2 separate regions of the Homo sapiens genome follow, and region 1 is linked to region 2. The links come from fine-mapping of genetic effects on gene expression. A gene starts in region 2. The other region holds a variant in brackets. All regions are shown on one strand. Distances are from middle to middle.

The links.
Region 1: its variant is fine-mapped to the expression of BEX3 in whole blood (TOPMed, PIP 0.95).

What each region holds. Positions count from the first base shown.
Region 1 is chrX:103,458,572-103,461,320 of GRCh38, reverse strand. It overlaps LL0XNC01-250H12.3 (a long non-coding RNA gene), which reads right to left. Exons shown (of 6, transcript NR_188440.1): 4 at 1-106. Among named protein-coding and RNA genes, the nearest start is that of LL0XNC01-250H12.3, 55 kb to the right of the region's middle. RefSeq lists an enhancer at 645-1,144. The variant C/T (reference allele first, on the strand shown) is at 1,712.
Region 2 is chrX:103,375,158-103,378,167 of GRCh38, reverse strand. BEX3 (brain expressed X-linked 3) reads right to left here and starts at 1,630. Exons shown (of 3, transcript NM_206917.3): 1 at 1,555-1,630; 2 at 1,062-1,140; 3 at 4-658. The coding sequence starts at 646. The coding sequence ends at 341.

The sequences.
Region 1 (2,749 bases), 83 kb before region 2:
CACTCTTGCTCCAGTAGCCTGTCTAGCAGACTCCACATCACATTTGGTTTTTCTCTGTTAGCTCCTAGTTCTAGGGCACAGAGTACACCCCTTCTCTGATGTTACACTAGAAGGGAGATAAGAAAGCACATGGAATAGTGAGGAAAGAAAGAGGACAGGTAAGGAGGTTGTACGTGTGATGATGTTTTGCCTATACCCCATTCAGTTAACTGGAAGCTAAGCAATGAGGTTTTTCCTCTCCCTCAGCTTCATCTCACTGTCCCCACCACCACACAGCAGTGATACTCAAGATTGCACATGACAGGCTGGGCACAGTGGCTCACGCCTGTAATCCCAGCCCTTTGGGAGGCCAAGGTGGGCAGATCACAAGGTCAGGAGACTGAGACCGTCCTGGCTAACATGGTGAAACCCTGTCTCTACTAAAAATACAAAAAAATTAGCCAGGCATGGTGGCATGTGCCTATAATAGTCCCAGCTACTTGGAAGGCTGAGGCAGGAGAATCACTTGAACCCAGGAGGCAGAGGTTGCAGTGAGCCGAGATTGCATCATTGCACTCCAGCCTGGGCACCAAAGCAAGACTCCATCTCAAAAAAAAAAAAAAGATTGCACATAATAAGAAATGATAATAGAAATGTAGACTTAAGTCTTAGCCAAGATGGCCGAATAGGAACAGTTCCAGTCTACAGCTCCCAGCGTGAGCGACGCAGCAGATGGGTGATTTCTGCATTTCCAACTGAGGTACCAGGTTCATCTCACTAGGGAGTGCCAGACAGTGGGTGCAGTGCACCGTGCGTGAGCTGAAGCAGAGCAAAGCATTGCCTCACCCAGGAAGCTCAAGGGGTCAGGGAATTCCCTTTCCTAGTCAAAGAAAGGGGTGACAGAAGGCACCTGGAAAATTGGGTCACTCCCACCCTAATACTGCGCTCTTCCAATGGGCTTAACAAACGGCACACCAGGAGATTATATCCCGCACCTAGCTCGAAGGGTCCTATGCCCACGGAGCCTCCCTCATTGCTAGCACAGCAGTCTGAGATCAAACTGCAAGGTGGCAGTGAGGCTGGGGGAGGGGCGCCCGCCATTGCTCAGGCTTGAGTAGGTAAACAAAGCAGCCAGGAAGCTCGAACTGGGTGGAGCCCACCACAGCTCAAGCAGGCCTGCCTGCTTCTGTAGGCTCCACCTCTGGGGGCAGGGCAGACAAACAAAAGACAGCAATAACCTCTGCAGACTTAAATGTCCCTGTCTGACAGCTTTGAAGAGAGTAGTGGTTCTCCCAGCACGCAGCTTGAGATCTGAGAATGGACAGACTGCCTCCTCAAGTGGGTCCCTGACTCCCGAGTAGCCTAACTGGGAGGCAGCCCCCAGTAGGGGCAGACTGACACCTCACACGGCCGGGTACTCCTCTGAGACAAAACTTCCAGAGGAACGATCAGACAGCAACATTTGCTGTTCACCAATATCCACTGTTCTGCAGCCTCCGCTGCTGATACCCAGGCAAACAGGGTCTGGAGTGGACCTCCAGTAAACTCCAACACACCTGCAGCTGAGGGTCCTGACTGTTAGAAGGAAAACTAACAAACAGAAAGGACATCCACACCAAAAACCCATCTGTACATCACCATCATCAAAGACCAAAGGTAGATAAAACCACAAAAATGGGGAAAATACAGAGCAGAAAAACCGGAAACTCTAAAAATCAGAGTGCCTCTCCTC[C/T]TCCAAAGGAACACAGCTCCTCACCAGCAACAGAACAAAGCTGGATGGAGAATGACTTTGACGAGTTGAGAGAGGAAGTCTTCAGAAGATCAAACTACTCCAAGCTAAAGGAGGAAGTTTGAACCCATGGCAAAGAAGTTAAAAACCTTGAAAAAAGATTAGATGAATGGCTAACTAGAATAACCAATGCAGAGAAGTCCTTAAAGGACCTGATGGAGCTGAAAACCAGGCACGAGAACTACGTGACAAATGCACAAGCCTCAGTAACGGATGCGATCAACTGGAAGAAAGGGTATCAGCGATGGAAGACGAAATGAATGAAATGAAGCATGAAGAGAAGTTTAGAGAAAAAAGAATAAAAAGAAACGAACAAAGCCTCCAAGAAATATGGGACTATGTGAAAATACCAAATCTACATCTAATTGATGTACCTGAAAGTGACGGGGAGAATGGAACCAAGTTGGAAAACACTCTGCAGGATATTATCCAGGAGAACTTCCCCAATCTAGCAAGGCAGGCCAACATTCAAATTCAGGAAATACAGAGAACACCACAAAGATACTCCTCGAGAAGAGCAATTCCAAGACACATAATTGTCAGATTCATCAAAGTTGAAATGAAGGAAAAAATGTTAAGGGCAACCAGAGAGAAAGGTCGGGTTACCCACAAAGGAAAGCCCATCGGACTAACAGCTGCTCTCTCGGGAGAAACTCTACAAGCCAGAAGAGAGTGGGGCCCAATATTCAACATTCTCAAAGAAAAGAATTTTCAAGCCAGAATTTCATATCCAGCCAAACTAAGCTTCATAAGTGAAGGAGAAATAAAATACTTTACAGACAAGCAAATGCTGAGAGATTTTGTCACCACCAGGCCTGCCCTAAAAGAGCTCCTGAAGGAAGCACTAAACATGGAAAGGAACAACTGGTACCAGCCACTGCAAAAACATACCAAATTGTAAAGACCACTGAGGCTAGGAAGAAACTGCATCAACTAATGAGCAAAATAACCACCTAACATCATAATGACAGGATCAAATTC
Region 2 (3,010 bases):
CAATTAACACTCTAGTGTATTTAATCTCAGATTTTTTTTTAGTTCATCTGTTATATGTAAGTATACATTTTTAATGAGACAATAAATGTATAGATTGCTTTTTAAATTGCTTTATTAGCTTTAAATTTTTCCATGCAAATGGGTGAAACTACTGCTGACAGAAACTTACACTGAGTGCAAAGGCAATCTTCAAATAGAAGCTGGCAACACAAGACCCACTTGACACATGGAAATAACATAGGGTTCACAGCAAACGGATCAGTAAAGGCATATTAGGAAAATGCAAGGAAAAAGAAAACAGCGGGAATCACAGTATTAATCTCATGATAAATGGCAGGAGTCAAGGCATAAGGCAAAATTCATCATGATGGTCATGGTGATTAGAGAGCTCCCCCATAAGGATACGCAGACAATTCCTCAACTGCAGCTCCCTAAGTTTTCTTCTGATTTCTCTCATCTCCTCCATGAATATTTCCATATCATCTCCATCTCCACCCATCCCATCATTGATCTGCCTATTGGGTATGGCCCATCGAAAATTAGGGGCAAGTCGGCGAGCCTGTCCCCGTCGATTTCCTGCAGGCTGGTGGCCTTCACCTCCTCCCAAAGGGCGGTCTTCCTCTCCATTCTGCATAGGCTGCTCCATCTCTTCGTTTTCCTGGTGAATATTTGCCATGATGAGATTTTTTTTTTCTGGTTGTTTTTCTTTGAACACAAGTAAGACAAAGGCAAGGAGAGAGACTGAATGCTTGGTGCTCTGACCAGCAGGATTCAGAGCCCTGATATCAAAGGATTTTTTAATTTCGTTTTTTCCCACCTTAGAAGTTCCGCGCGTCCTCTACGGGGCCTCCAATTAAAGCCCCTCCCTCCAGCTTTCTCCCCTTACCTCCCTTCCCCCAAACCCACCATTTTTCGTTTCCCGGGATTCTTTCCCAGAGCTTTGCAGGCACCAAAATGGAGGACCGGTATAGGAGTGGGGGATGGGGTGGAGGGGGTTGGGGTCTCAGACTGGGCTTTCCTTACGTTCCGACCCCCGCCCCACCACCGTCCCTCGCACCGACCTGGGCCTATCCTTGCAGTCTCCTTCTCCTCCGGATTCTCGCCGCGAGGTGCGCCGCGGAGACACTTAGCCTCGCAGACCTGCAGTCGAGCCGGGGTGGGGGTTGTGGGGGGTGGGGGCTGCTGCAGCGGAACGCTAGCGAAGACCCGCCGCCGCCCGGCCCTTTCCGTGCTCCGAGCCCGGGCTCCCCTCGCTGCCAGCGCCCCGCGTCTCCCGCCCCCCACCCCCACCCCACCCTCGAACGCCCAGCCCCCCGCGGTGTTCGCTGTTTTCCTGCAGGGACTCGGGGGTGGGTTTCCATCGCTCTTGGTGGCTCTGCCGCCCCTGGAAACCCAGCCGCCCCTGCTTCCCCATCCCTGGGGGCCTCTGTGTTCCCAAGCATGTTGGGGTGTGGAGAAAGCTGGCGGGGACCCCCTGCGCTGTTCTGCGCCTGTCGCCGAGGTCGGTCAGCCGCTGCTGGCATGGCCGGGGCTCACGGGCCCCGGAGCCCTTACCTGCTCCGCTTTTCCCCGGGCCGAATGCCAGCCCGCCGAGCTCAGGGCAGCGGGGAGCTGGTAGCCAGACGCGAGTGACGACTGCACCGAAGGCTGCGTCGCTCTGCAGCTCTGGGTCACGTGAGGGCCGCGCGTCACCACCGAGCTCGCCCCCCAACTTGGGCGGCCAGTGCAGCAGGATCTCCCCCTTCCCCCCACCCGCCACCGCCATATGCACGCGCAAAAAACAGCCTCCCTACTCCCGTCTGCATGAGGTGCCCCAGAGCGCACAGCCCTGTCACTCTTCTCGGTCCTCTCCAATCTGAGGGCCCACAAGTGGCATCACTGCTCTGCGGTTGGAGTTTGCCCTCCTCTGGTTACCAGGGAGGGTCTGCATCATCCTCCACCACTGCCCCCTCTCACTTCAGGCCTTGGCTTTGGCCTTTTCTGCTTTCTCTCCTTTTCTACCTGGCAACATGCTTTGCGCTGCACTCCCACTTCTACCCCTTGCGTGTGCACAGCCATCAATGCCCACGTAGCCCCTGAATTCCTACCCTTCTAGAAAATTTAGAGTGAGGGCTAAGGTGGGGAGGCAGGAGGGCATTTGTCAGAAAGCGGGGCAAGGAAGTGGAGTGGACTGTATATATTTCTTTTTATTTCCTTAAAAAATCTGCATGCTTCAGAAAATTATAAATTATAAGTTTTTAATTTTGAAAGAAATGCTGGTTGGGCGCGGTGGCGTACCTGTAATCCCAGCACTTTGGGAGGCCGAGGCGGGTGGATCACTTGAGGCCAGTAGTGTGAGACCAGCCTGGCCAACATGGTGAGACCCCATCTCTACTAAAAATACAAAAATTAGCTGGGCGTGGTGGCGTGCGCCTGTAATCCCAGCTACTCGGGGGGCTGAGGCAGGAGAATCGCTTGAACCTGGGAGGCGGAGGTTGCAGTGAGCCGGGATCGCACCACTGCACTCCAGCCTGGGCGACAGAGCAAGACCCTGTCAAAAAAAAAAAAAAAAAAAAAAAAAAAAAAGGAAATGCTTTATCCTGCACAATGAAATCTCTCATTGTTTATGTTGACCTGTACCACACAAAATATTTTTTCTGGGCTCCACACAACATCAAGCCATTACTTTTGATACATACTAGCTCGTTTAAAATTTTATTTTTGGCCGGGCATGGTGGCTCACGCCTGTAATCCCAGCACTTTGGGAGGCCGAGGCGGGCGGATCACGAGGTCAGGAGATCGAGACCATCCTGGCTAATACGGTGAAACTCCGTCTCTACTAAAAATACAAAAAAATTAGCCAGGCGTGGTGGCACGTGCCTGTAGTCCCAGCTACTCGGGAGGCTGAGGCAGGAGAATCGTTGAACCCGGGAGGCAGAGGTTGCAGTGAGCCGCGTCGCACCACTGCACTTCAGTCTAGGCGGCAGAGCGAGACTCCGTCTCCAAAAAAAAAAAAAAGAAAAGAAAAAAA